Regions from separate parts of the Homo sapiens genome. Here regions 1 and 2 are each linked to region 3. Evidence: fine-mapped expression QTL. A gene starts in region 3. Each other region holds a variant in brackets. All regions are shown on one strand. Distances are between the middles of the regions. Region 1 overlaps OSBPL9 (oxysterol binding protein like 9). Region 2 overlaps OSBPL9 (oxysterol binding protein like 9). Region 3 holds the start of OSBPL9 (oxysterol binding protein like 9).

The links. PIP is the estimated chance that this variant, and not a neighbour inherited with it, causes the effect.
Region 1: its variant is the best candidate, but not a certain one, in a credible set for the expression of OSBPL9 in esophagus muscle (GTEx, PIP 0.68).
Region 2: its variant is the best candidate, but not a certain one, in a credible set for the expression of OSBPL9 in whole blood (INTERVAL, PIP 0.82).

The regions. Positions count from the first base shown.
Region 1 is chr1:51,747,691-51,751,935 of GRCh38, forward strand. It overlaps OSBPL9 (oxysterol binding protein like 9), which reads left to right. Exons shown (of 24, transcript NM_024586.6): 7 at 679-708; 8 at 2,455-2,505. Among named protein-coding and RNA genes, the nearest start is that of MIR761, 87 kb to the right of the region's middle. The variant G/A (reference allele first, on the strand shown) is at 2,090.
Region 2 is chr1:51,785,741-51,789,967 of GRCh38, forward strand. It overlaps OSBPL9 (oxysterol binding protein like 9), which reads left to right. Exons shown (of 24, transcript NM_024586.6): 21 at 68-146; 22 at 786-877; 23 at 1,613-1,748; 24 at 1,975-3,479. The coding sequence ends at 2,049. NRDC (nardilysin convertase) reads right to left here. Exons shown (of 31, transcript NM_001101662.2): 30 at 3,828-3,917; 31 at 3,470-3,693. The coding sequence ends at 3,496. Among named protein-coding and RNA genes, the nearest start is that of MIR761, 49 kb to the right of the region's middle. RefSeq lists silencers at 1,203-1,403, 2,883-3,083. The variant G/A (reference allele first, on the strand shown) is at 2,452.
Region 3 is chr1:51,615,068-51,619,312 of GRCh38, forward strand. It overlaps OSBPL9 (oxysterol binding protein like 9), which reads left to right and starts at 2,025. Exons shown (of 24, transcript NM_024586.6): 1 at 2,025-2,154. The coding sequence starts at 2,044. LOC105378719 (a long non-coding RNA gene) reads right to left here. Exons shown (of 3, transcript XR_947339.4): 2 at 1,600-1,643. RefSeq lists enhancers at 1,722-2,630, 2,631-3,538.

The DNA of each region.
Region 1 (4,245 bases), 130 kb after region 3:
TAAAACAACTTAGGAAAGATAAATGTGATTTTAAAATAAGTGAAATTCGTAGAAAAGCCAAAACTTGCTTTCAGGTAAGGAATAAGAATTTTTTGTTGTTGTTTTTTGTTTTGTTTTGAGATGGAATCTTGCTCTGTCGCCCAGGCTGGAGTGCAGTGGCGTGATCTCGGCTCACTGCAAGCTCTGCCTCCCAGGTTCACGCCATTCTCCTGCCTCAGCCTCCCAAGTAGGTGGGACTACAGGTGCCTGCCACCACGCCCAGCTAATTTTTTGTATTTTTAGTAGAGGTGGGGTTTCACCATGTTAGCCAGGATGGTCTCGATCTCCTGACCTCATGATCCGCCCACCTCGGCCTCCCAAAGTGCTGGGATTACCGGCTCAAGCCACCGTGCCCAGCCAGGAATAAGAATGTTTTATATTATTCTTACAAACCTTAAATTGAATCACGTGAATTTTATTAAAGAGAACATATAATTCATAAAAGTCTGGAATTTTTATACAAATAATTGATTTAGATAAAAAACAAAATACAACAAAAAGTACTCCCTTCCCAACTTGCTTGTACTCACTTAGAATGAGTACATTTTGGTAAAATTCTTTAAATGACTAGCCAGTAAAAAATAACCGTCCTTCTTTGTGCTTCTGATTATTTCTGTTTAAACTTATTATTTTTCACAGAAAATTGAAACTCTCAAAGAGACAACAAATGTAAGTTATATGTTTGATACATTCTGACTTTGCATTAGAAAATGTTTTAAAAAGTTATTTCTATTTTAAGCTGCCACTATTGATGACAGCAATTGAGATGTTAGTTTTTATGAATATTATACAGGGGTGCTTAAGCATTGTATTTTTTTTTAAAGGAATTTAAAATAATACTAATAGAATAAGCCCCTTAATCGAAATTGACTTCATGTACCATTTACCTGTTTCTGGTCTCGTTTGAAATCTTGATAAAAGGTGTCTTCCACGCACAGTGGATATGTTATTTCATATTTTAAAAAAAATAATTAATTTCTTTGATTCTTAAGGCAGGGTCTTACTATGTTGTCCAGGTCTCAACTCCTGGGCTCAAGCGATCCTCCTGCCTCAGCCTTCAAAAGTGGTGGGATTGGCCGGGCGCGGTGGCTCACACCTGTAATCCCAGCACTTTGGGAGGCCGAGGTGGGCGGATCACCTGAGGTTGGGAGTTCCAGACCAGACTGACCAACATGGATAAACCCCATCTCTACTAAAAATACAAAATTATCCAGGCGTGGTGGCTTATGCCTGTAATCCTAGCTACTCTGGAGGCTGAGACAGGAGAATCGCTTGAACTGGGGAGGCAGAAGTTGCAGTGAGTTGAGATCGTGCCATTGCACTCCAGCCTGGGCAACAAGAGCGAAACTGTGTCTCAAAAAAAAAAAAAGTGATGGGATTATAGGCATGAGCCACTGCAGCTGGCTTCTTTCTTATTAAAATATATTATAATTCAAGTTTTCTGATATAGTGGACTTCTGACATTATATAATGGGCTACTTATGAGATGTGTACCTTGCTCAAAATTTTAAAACAGGTAAAATAATAATTTGATTCACCAGTGTTTTGACAGGATCCTTTATTCTCCATACTTCCATCAAAGTCTTTTTATTTTTTTTTAAGAAACAGGGTCTTGCTGTGTCATCCAGGCTGGAGTACAATGGTGCAGTCATAGCTCACTGCAGCTTCGAACTCCTGGGCTCAGACAATCCTCCTGCTTCAGCCATTTGAGTAGCTAGGGCTATAGGCACACGCTACCACACACAGCTAATTTTTATTTTAATTTTTTATAGAGATGGGATTCTGCTATGTTGCCTAGGCTGGTCTCCTAGCCTCAAGCGATCCTCCTTCCTTGGCCTACCAAAGCAGTGGGATTACAGGTGTGAATCACCATACCCAGCCTATCAGTGTCTTAGGTAGATTTCTTAGGGTTGCTTGCTGTTGATGTAAGAATTCGTAAGTTAATCAGATTCGTATGTCTTTCTGTTTGAAGTGTTGAAAAACCATTTAGAGCCAAGCACGGTGGCATGTGCATGTAGTGCCAGCTACTCGGGAGGCTGAGACGGGGATC[G/A]CTTGAGCCTCTGAGTTTGAGGCTGCAGTGTGCTATAATTGTGCCTGTGAATAGCCACTGCAATCCAGCGTGATCAGCATAGTGAGACCTTGTCTCTTAAAAAAAAAAAAAAAGAAAAAAAAATTAGATATTATTTAGTATAAATTAACAATTTGTGGCATTCGTTAAAATTCATAGAACTGCTAATGAATAACTTCATTTGGCATTATCAGCATACTAGAACCCACTAGATCCAAAGAGGATATTTCTTGTGTAGTATAGACTTAAACTCTATACATCTGAACTGATTTTTATATTTTAAGCTTTAACATTATATATCCATTTATTTGAGCCAAGATCCTAAAATCAGTGTTTTGTTTTTATAGAGCATGGTAGAATCAATTAAACACTGCATTGTGTTGCTGCAGATTGCCAAAGTAAGTAAATTTTACTTTCAATTACCTTTGTGTATGGAGTTCAAAAATTATAATGGCGTTTTTCTTTAATAGCAAAAAAACTCAGATCTGAAACATAGTACCTTTCTACATTAAACTGTATTGTGAGCTTATTCTATGGAACAACTGTTGTGTTTGGCTATTATCTTAGCTACTGTTTCTGGTAATGTCATTTCTGGTAGCTGGGAAGGAGGGGAGCATGTTTGAATGACTCATCCCTTCCTTCCATTTTATCCATTATCACTGCTTAGAACAGGGACATATTTTACAAAACCTTCCACAAAAAAAGTTTTTCTTAGAAAATAGAGAAGTAAGTTCTGACAGTTATTGTCCATAATGAAGAATATAATAGAGATATATTTTTTAAATTTTTACGGATTTTTTTCTGGTAGTGAACTACGTTAGTGGATTTTAATTATTCTTCCTTATTCATGAAACAAAATATATTTTGAATTATTGTGGGTTAAAAATTTCATATATGTTGTCTCTTTTTCTGAAAAATTTTGGTGTATTCAACCTAAATATATATTTTATTGCCTGAGAGTTTCTGAAATAAGAATATTATTGTTTGAGAATAGGAATTTTTAAAACTATTTCTACCTCACTACACCCCTTTATTTCCAGCAAGTGGCTAGCAAGGGGTGGGTGACCAGCTCCACAGCCCAGTTGAGAAATGTTGTTTGAATGAGTTTATAATTACTCATCTCTTTTACTTCTTCAGTTGCATATGTTTGTTTGCCAAATCATAGAGACTTTTAACCTACTGTTGTTAATGACACAATAGCATAGGACAGTCCATTTGCATTTGGATAGTAAGGATATTTAGCTTATAAATTAAATGGGGCAATGTCATTTTCTTTTGAGGCCTGATTTAAAATATATTTTTTATTTTTTGAGACAGTCTCGCTCTGTTGCCCAGGCTGGAGTGCAGTGGCACAATCTCAGCTCACTGCAACCTCTGCCTCCTGGGTGCAACTGATTCTCGTGCCTCAGCCTCCTGAGTAGCGAGGTTACAGGCATGCACCACCACGCCTGGCTAATTCTTATATTTTTAGTAGAGATGGGGGTTTCACCATGTTACCCAGGCTGGTCTGAACTCCTGGCCTCCCAAAGTGCTGGGATTACAGGCGTGAGCTACCAAACCCAGCCCAATGTATTATACTTAAAGTGTCAGAACTTAGGGCTTATGTTCTGTTTCTAGATGTTAGTGATATCTAGATTTCCTATGTATGTGTCTAAATTTTTCATTTCCTGTTGTAGATCATAGTATATTCCAAAGCCAAGCAGAAGGAAAGATAGGATTGGAGGCACAAAAGAGATAAAGTTTTTATTTTAGTTTTTCTTGGCTCTGGAATTACATAGGTGAGTAGAAGCACCTATAGTTATCCAAAAGCTTACCTACAGATAACCAGTAAACCACACCATGCCCTGTTTGAGTGACTAGGTATTTTAGGGAATACATACTGCCTTCTATTGAAGATTGGGGAAGCAGAGGAGCTGATACAGTGTTTAAGCCAGTTTGGGTGATCTCTGAAAATCATTCAGGACTTTAGATAGTTGTACAGTAGGTCAGCCTAGCCTATTTCAGTAGCTCACTGTTTAGCCACTCATCGAGAACATTTTTAGTGTAATTTGTACTTGCTACCTGTCTGTGTTAGCCCAGCTTAATAAAACTACGTTTTAGGGTTCTTCGCAATGGATAACTTGGATCACGTAAATGAA
Region 2 (4,227 bases), 170 kb after region 3:
CACTGAGCAGATTCTTTGGTAGAATTTTCAACTTGAGACTAACACAAGTATTTCCTTTTCTGTTCAGTTCTCCAAATGACAAGAAGTCTTTTTGCTCAATTGAAGGGGAATGGAATGGTGTGATGTATGCAAAATATGCAACAGGGGTAAGATCCTCTATTTTGCCACTTGTTTTAGGCTACATTAGATTGTACTCTATCCCTTTTTCTGGCTTCCTTCATTAGTACTTCCTTCATAATGCATTTCCTTCTACAGTATATTAGAGCTGGAACTTTAGGACAGCTCCAGTGTATGTCATCTCTTCAGGGCAAGCTTTTTCTTTCCTTCCCCCACCTTCTCCCAGCAGTATAGGTAATTATAATCATTTTTACTTTTCTCTCTGCTCTCAAAACACTTGAGAATAATATATGTAAAACAATGCCTGGCACATAGTAAGAACCCAGTAAATGTTAGGTATGTGGCGTATGTTTATAAAATGAAGCACTAAACTGTGTGTTTCCATACACACACAGTTGAAGATTTTGTATAATAAAATTTACTGACTGCCTGGCACCAGAGATACCAAAATGAGTTAAGATAGACCTTTCCTTCAAAGAACTTGCACTCTGTACTACTGCCCACTCAGTGTTCTTAAACAGAGGAAAGATGTTATGAAATTAACAGGAGGAGCCAGTTAACTGCATTTTGGACCTAGAGAATTTGAAGTGTCAAAAGCACTACAATGCATCTAACATTAGGTTAGGGGTTTATGGGTCTAGTTCCCATCCACCTCTATTGTTTTCTAGGAAAATACAGTCTTTGTAGATACCAAGAAGTTGCCTATAATCAAGAAGAAAGTGAGGAAGTTGGAAGATCAGAACGAGTATGAATCCCGCAGGTAAGCCGACATTGTTAAGTGGAACTATTGCTGCAGTGCTTAAACTTTGCCTAGGCGTAGGCACAGGGCTGGGTTTGAGAGACAGTAGGGCAGAGCATAATAGTATAGACCAAGTTTGAATTCCTGGGTTCGTATGTCAGAACTACCACTTACTACCTTTGTGACCATGGATGGCTCAGTCAGCTAACTTCTCTTTACCTTCTTTCCTGAAATGAGAATAAAGGCCTTGAGAGGAAGCCACATCTTAACTAACTTTAAAGCCTCTGTAATTTACTTCTTGACCCTTATTCTCTCCATTCATACTATTTTCTCCATCATATTGTTAAATCCAAGGGAGTTTTTCTGAAATGGAACTTCTCAGTTCCTCTAACACTTACAGGTATATATTAAGGGACACTCAAGCCCTACAGAGGTAAACTGATTGACCCAGAGTTGCACAGTAAGTTAGACATAGAGCCAGAAGTAGAATCCCAGGTCTCAGCTTCCACTATTCTTTTTCTTCTGTTGACCTTATCATACTATCAGGCAGCCCTTATTTCCTTCTTTGACAACTAGCAGTGGAGTCTTCTGAGCCCATATGTCTGTTCCTTACTCCAGTGCCCTGGTGCCAGCGTAAGGAGATTTAGTCTGTGACCTACAGCACTTAAAGCCATTTGACTTGTATTATACTATATTCAGGATGGCTGCAGGCTTTCATTCTCAACATTGGCAGCTCCTCTTACCTCTTTGTTTTAGCCTTTGGAAGGATGTCACTTTCAACTTAAAAATCAGAGACATTGATGCAGCAACTGAAGCAAAGCACAGGCTTGAAGAAAGACAAAGAGCAGAAGCCCGAGAAAGGAAGGAGAAGGAAATTCAGTGGGAGACAAGGGTAAGCTTGCCTGCCCCACCCTCCTAAGTGCTGTTCCTCCTAATTTATTTCAGTGAATGTTGAAGAAGTGATGTGCCAAACACTGTTTATAAACAAGATGATCGCTGGTCCCTACTTGAAACTCATTTCAGTCTAATGGCGGGGTGGGGAGCAGATATGAAATAGTAAGTATATTACAGAAGTACAAAGCAAATATGTAACTAAATTCTTCCTCTTTGTCTTACAGTTATTTCATGAAGATGGAGAATGCTGGGTTTATGATGAACCATTACTGAAACGTCTTGGTGCTGCCAAGCATTAGGTTGGAAGATGCAAAGTTTATACCTGATGATCAGGGCAGTAGGCATAATTCAGCAACAAACAATCTTCCTTTGGGAGAAACCTGTTCATTCCAATCTTCTAATTACAGTGGTTCCTATCTCAGGGATACTGGACTTTCTGACGCAGATGAACAATTAAGGGGAAAAGCTTCCCTTTTCCCTCTGTGGCAGTTACGATTTTGACTTCAGTCCTGAGAAAAACTTCAGGTTTTGAAAATCAGATGATGTCTTCTCCTTTTCCAAACACCACACGTTGAAAGCATTTATAAATCCAAGTCTGAAACTCTGCGCTCTAGTACTGCTGTTAAGATACACAACTTGTTTCTTAGTTCATATAATCTCGGGATACACACACACACACACATATATATACACACACATAC[G/A]TATACACACACATACATATATATAAATATACCTGATGCCAGATTTTTTTCATAAATATTCTGCCTACTGTAAATATGGGTTCCTCTGAGTTGTTTTAGAAAATTAGCGCAATGTATTAAAATCAAGTGTTAGGAAATTTCATGGTCTTACCTACAATAACTTTTATTTTGGAATTGAACTATTATTAAATTGTATCTAATCCTGGATTACAGTTTAATTAATTATTCTTAGTGCTTAAGGCTTCATAAAGTAATTTTTCCAACCTTTTTTTTAAAAATGTGCATCTTTTATTATCTTTTATGGTTAAACTTGGAAGCCAATTATTTGGCAACCTTGAATACAAGAGCTAGCTTTTCAAAGAAAGACACTTGAAATAATGGAGGATCCATTCTTTTCCTCTGTCAGATTGTATGTTCTGTCTTTAGCCCCTGCCAGGCAATTCCCCAGAATCTTCACTTAACTCATATTGCACATGTAGGGCTGCCTACCAACATTTTATCCAAAAATGTTTTATTGCCTTAGAGGGTTTGGGAAGAGTGTGTATTTATAGATCCCCACCCCACAGTGAACAAAAATAGATAGATAGATAGAATAAAATGAATGCCACAGCAGCAGATGGCTCATTCTGAAGGGAAATACAGAACTATATCTATCTATCTATCTATCATCTTTTTTATTTAAAAATACATTAAAAAAACAGGTATTAGTACCTAGCATTTAGTTAGTTATTCAATATACTGGTTACGTAAGGCCTTTCAAGAAGTAGATTCTCAGTCTGAGAGGACACAGGCCAGGGCTTCTCAAAGTGCTGCTGCAGGCTTTCTGGTCTCGCTTGGCCCATTCTGCTAATTTTCCTTTGCCAGCTCCTACAGTAACCCTGGGTTTATTAGTCTCAACAAAGGATAAAAAGTAAATCAAATGCTATGATGCCAGTGCAAAACTTCAATGGAAGCCCTAAGGCAGTAGTATAACTAACTCCATAAAATACAAACAAACACATTTTAAAATACACATTGCTTCAGGCCAACGTGACTGCAGTTTATTTATTTGACTATTTTATGGTAGGGGAGAAGGTTGAGTGTTGTTGTGAAAGCCCTGATATCAGTAATGGGGATGATACAATCTGCCAGCAGAGGAGAGGTTGGCAGGTAGGTCAGCTGCATCACTTCACAAGAAGAATTTGAATCCTCACTAGAAGGGGTACCATCCTCTTCCAGTTCATACTTCCCATATCCAACAACCTGAAAGAGGACAAAGACAAAAGTGAAAAATATGCTGACCAGATTTAGGGGTTTAAGAGTTCTGATGATAACCACCCAAACTCACTCAGTAAATGACAACCCTAGAATGGATGGAGTTAGTTAAACATACTCACATGAACGCTGAGCATTTTACTTCCTGGCCCTCTATGGGCCTTGAACCAGTTGACCAGGTCTGATTTTGAGAATGACTTCAGTGCTTCAATCTTACAAGGGAAGGGAAGATAGGAAAGAAATTCAAGAAGAAAGATAGCTCTTAAACCTAACCCCCAGGCAGATGTCCCTGGACCTGCTTAGCATCTGAAGACCTCATTTTATTCTTCCTATTCTCAGGTTACCCCTAACCTTCCAGACCAAAACGATGATGAAGCTCTCTGGCATGCCTTCACATTTTATACCAATCATCTACAATGGCAAGAGAGGTTAGCAGATGCTATAATTACAGCTAAATACCATACACTGAGCCCAACACCCACATCCCCTTAGTGTCACCTCCCAATTACATGGTAGCTGCAT
Region 3 (4,245 bases):
TGGCCAACATGGTGAAACCTCGTCTCTACTAAAAATACAAAAGTTAGCCAGGCGAGCGCCTGTAATCCCAGCTACTTGGGAGGCTGCGGCAAGAGAATCTCTTGAACTTGGGAGGTGGAGGTTGCAGTGAGCCGAGATCGTGCCACTGCTCTCCAGCCTGGGCGATAAGAGTGAAACTCCATCTCAAAAAAACAAAACAAAACAAAACAAAACAAACAAAAAAAACAGAAACTCATTCATTTCTATACCATCTAACTACTGATCCACTGGCATCTGAACCCATACTCTCTGCTCTTCTTTCTTGTTACTTTGGATAAAGTATCTCTGCTAGTATCAAAAGTCAACCTTTGCACTTGGGCTTGGGGTCTCAGTCTTTTCCTTTCTTTCTTTTTTTGTATTTTATTCCAGTGTTTTGCCAACACAAAAAGAGGTCTCAATCTTATGAAGGGCTTCACTGCTGCTATTCTCTCTTTTCTCTAGGATGTCCCCAGTTTTTCCCTCTCTTGAAAATCAGCAAAGTAATATTCTCTAGTGTCTTCGATCTAAATAATAATTTTAAAAAAGGACAAAGAAAGCCCTTCCCTTGACCACACCTCCGTTTCCAGCTAGTGCCTCATCTTTTAGTTTCCTTTTTAGCTCTTTCTCTTGATATTTGCACGGCTGGCCTTTTCTTATCCTCCATATCTAAGTTTAAAGCCACTTCCTAAGAGGCCTGCCCTATAACCACCCCCTATAAATTAGCTACCCACTGACTTCCTATTAAAATAATTTATTAAATTATTTGCAGTGTTAATCAGTATTGGATATTTTTCTTGTTTACTTGTTTAGTGTTTGCTTTCACCACAGAATTTAAGCTCTGAGAGAGCTTATTCACTGCTGTATTCCCAGGACCTCCAACAGTGCCTAGATATAGTAGGTGGTCAATAAATCCTTTGGTTTTTTTTTTTTTTTTTTTTTTTTTGTGTGAGAGAGAATTTGGCTCTGTCACCCAGGCTGGAGTGCAGTGATGCAATCTCGGCTCCGAGGTTCAAGTGATTCTTGTGCCTCAGCTAGGACTACAGGGTGCGCCACCACGCCCAGATAATTTTTGTATGTTTAGTAGAGATGGGCTTTTACCATGTTGGCCAGGCTGGTCTCGAACGCCTGATCTCAAGTGATCTGCCTGCCTCGGCCACCCAAAGTGCTGGGATAACAGGTGCGAGCCACCGCGCCCAGCCAATAAATGCTTAAATTGCCCCTGTAGGCTGTTAGTGATCTATCCCTACTTCTTTGACCTTATCTCCCACCACTTTCTCCCTGGCTCACTGCTCCACGCACACTGACCTCCTTGTTGATCCCTCAAGATGCCACGCTCACTCCTAACATTTGGTCTTTGCATTTGCTATTCCTTCGTCTTGGAAGGCTCTTCCACCAGGCTCCCTCCTTCGCTTTCTTCAGGTCTTTGCTTAAAAGTTACCTTTTCACTCAGGCCTTCCCTGTTTGGGAATTTAAAATAGCAGTCCCAGCGCTCTCTCCTTCCTTGCTTATGTTTTTCTCCATAGCATTTATGATTTTTTAATGTACGATATAATTTACTATTTATTTTACCATTCCCCTCACCTGTCATGAAGGCTCTGTTGTATCCCCAATGTCTAGAAGAATGCCTAGCACAAAACAGCGAATATTTATTAAATGAATGGATTTGTGGAATGAATGCATAAATGAATATCAGATATGAAATCTTTTGGAAGTGGAAGGTATCATGGCCAGTAAAATTATTTATTAATATGTTCATAATCTTTTTTCTTTACTCTAATCCCATGACAGATTATAAATAATCTTAATAGCAGTATTCACGTTTGCATTCTCGCATCCGTGGCATGGAGTCCTACACACAATAGGCGCCCTAAGAAAGCGTGTTTGACTTGATCGCTGGAGCATCTGCCGGCACCGCCCAGGACCCGCCCAGGACCCGCCCCGCCCCCTGCGGCCCCGCCCCCCGCATGCTGAATGCCATATAGGCGAGTGACGTCAGGCCGTTTGTTGTCATTGGCGGCTCCCAAGATGGCGTCCATCATGGAAGGGCCGCTGAGCAAATGGACTAACGTGATGAAGGGCTGGCAGTACCGTTGGTTCGTGCTGGACTACAATGCAGGACTGCTCTCCTACTACACGGTGAGTCCTTGGAGGGCACAGCTCCAGGCGCCTCGGGGCCGCGTTTCCTGGGTGGAGGTGGGGGACCGGGGTTTTAGGTGGCTGAGTTGAGGTTGCTAGTCTGGGGGTGCCGCCGTACGCGAGGGTTCCCTTGTTGGGGAGGGTTTTACGTCTCGGATAGCCAATGAGGGTGAGGGAGAGAGGGGCGCAGCCAATAAATAGAAACTAGCTGTCTGATTTATGGGTTGGGGGTGAGCCAAGTTTCTTTCTTAGGGTCCGCTATTAAGCGGTAGTGGGGTCCAGCATGGTTGTGAGCGGGTAAGGGTGATCGTAGTCATGGCTTAAAAGGTCCAGTCTTGCGGTTCATGCTGTCTTCATATGTTGTCATGGACTTTACACTGTCCCACCAAGGCCCTGTAGCCGGCCGCACCCCTTAGCTTCCCTCCAGGGATTGAAGAGCTCTGCTTCCTCGGAGGAGTGGCCAGAGGAGCCGGGACAGGTCCAAAAGTGACCAGCCCTCGGGCAACACCAGGGGGTCCGAAATCCCTCCAGTCGGTTCAGGTTGTGTGTCTCATTCAAGGGACGCACCCCTCTATTTAGCGGGAGGCGAGCTCAAACGACGCCTTAACTTTTGAGAGCCAAGGATTTCCTACACGCGAGACTCTTGTCAGCGAAGAGAGACAAGTGATAGTGCAGTGTCCCCTTACAGTTACATTCTGGGTTCAGGGCTTCACTGTTGTTAACATGAGTTGGTGGCCGTGGAAAAGTAGATGAATTGCTGTGAATCTTACGTGGTTGTGTGTGTGTGTGTGTGTGTGTGTGTGGTTTTTTTTTTGAGACGGAGTCTCGCCCTGTTGCCCAGGCTGGCGTGCAATGGCATCATCTCGGCTCACTGCAACTTCTGCCTCTCGGGTTCAAGCGATTCTCCTGCCTCTGGCCTCCCTAGTAGCTGGGATCACAGGCATGCGCCACCACACCCTGCTAATTCTTGTATTTTTAGTAGAGACGGGGTTTCACCATGTTGGCCAGGCTGGTCTTGAACTCCTGACCTCAGGTGATCCACCCGCCTCGGCCTCCCAAAGTACTGGGATTACAGACGTGAGCCACCGCGTCCGGCCTTGAATCTTATGTTTTGACTATCCCCTCCACCCTCATCGCATTCGATATGGAGAGTAGGTGGTATTAGGGAGATAACTTACTTAGAAAGGTACTTTCTCTGAATGGTGTATAGTTGACGATAGCCGATATGAGGGAAGAAAATACATAAGAGGACAAAATAGAATGCCCAGAAAGCTTTAGAAAATAATAGAAGACAGAAAGAAAAACATGATTATGGAAGAAGGATTAAGGTTGATGAGAGAAAGGGGACACTGAATTTATTTGTTCATTTAAAAAATATTATTGAGCTGCTATGTGCGTTTTCATGCCAGCAAGAATAGACAGTAAAAAAGACATTCACTGTTCCTCTTCTCTGGAGCTTATATACTAGCTTGGTGAGTCCTTTAATTCATTTCACTCCTAATAACTCTGCAAGGTGGTTATTCATTATCTCCATTTAATATCCCCAGTTACAGTTTTGAAATCTGAGGCTCCAGGCTTTTAAAGCAATTTGCTCAACATCACATAGCACTAAGTGATGGAATCAGGATGCCAAATTATTGACTTTTTCTACTAAACTTCGCTTTCACTACAGGAAGGAGAAAAGTGTAAGTTGTGAGTTACTAAAGGCAAGCTTGCAAGAGTAAAAGTATTACTTTCATCATCCTTCAACTATCAGCTTTCTTTCTCTACATAGTTTTTAAAGGGAAAAAGACTAAACCTTAATGAGTCTTAAACACATTGTTCAAGATTGTCTTTAGGTGGGCATGAAAGAGAGGCAACTGAATATTATGTCCTGAAAACTCTGGAATTATGAAACCCATGGCTTAGATAAAGGAAAAGTAATATTGGGTTTAAGTAGATGTGATAATCAGAAAATCCCGTAAACTCTATTCAAGATAGAGTGATTTCAGTGAGTGACACTATGCAGTTAAGTTACTTTACAAATCCCAAATTTGTGTGGATCTGAATCTAGGACCATACTGGAGAGGCCCCCAGCTGAGGTTCTTGGGA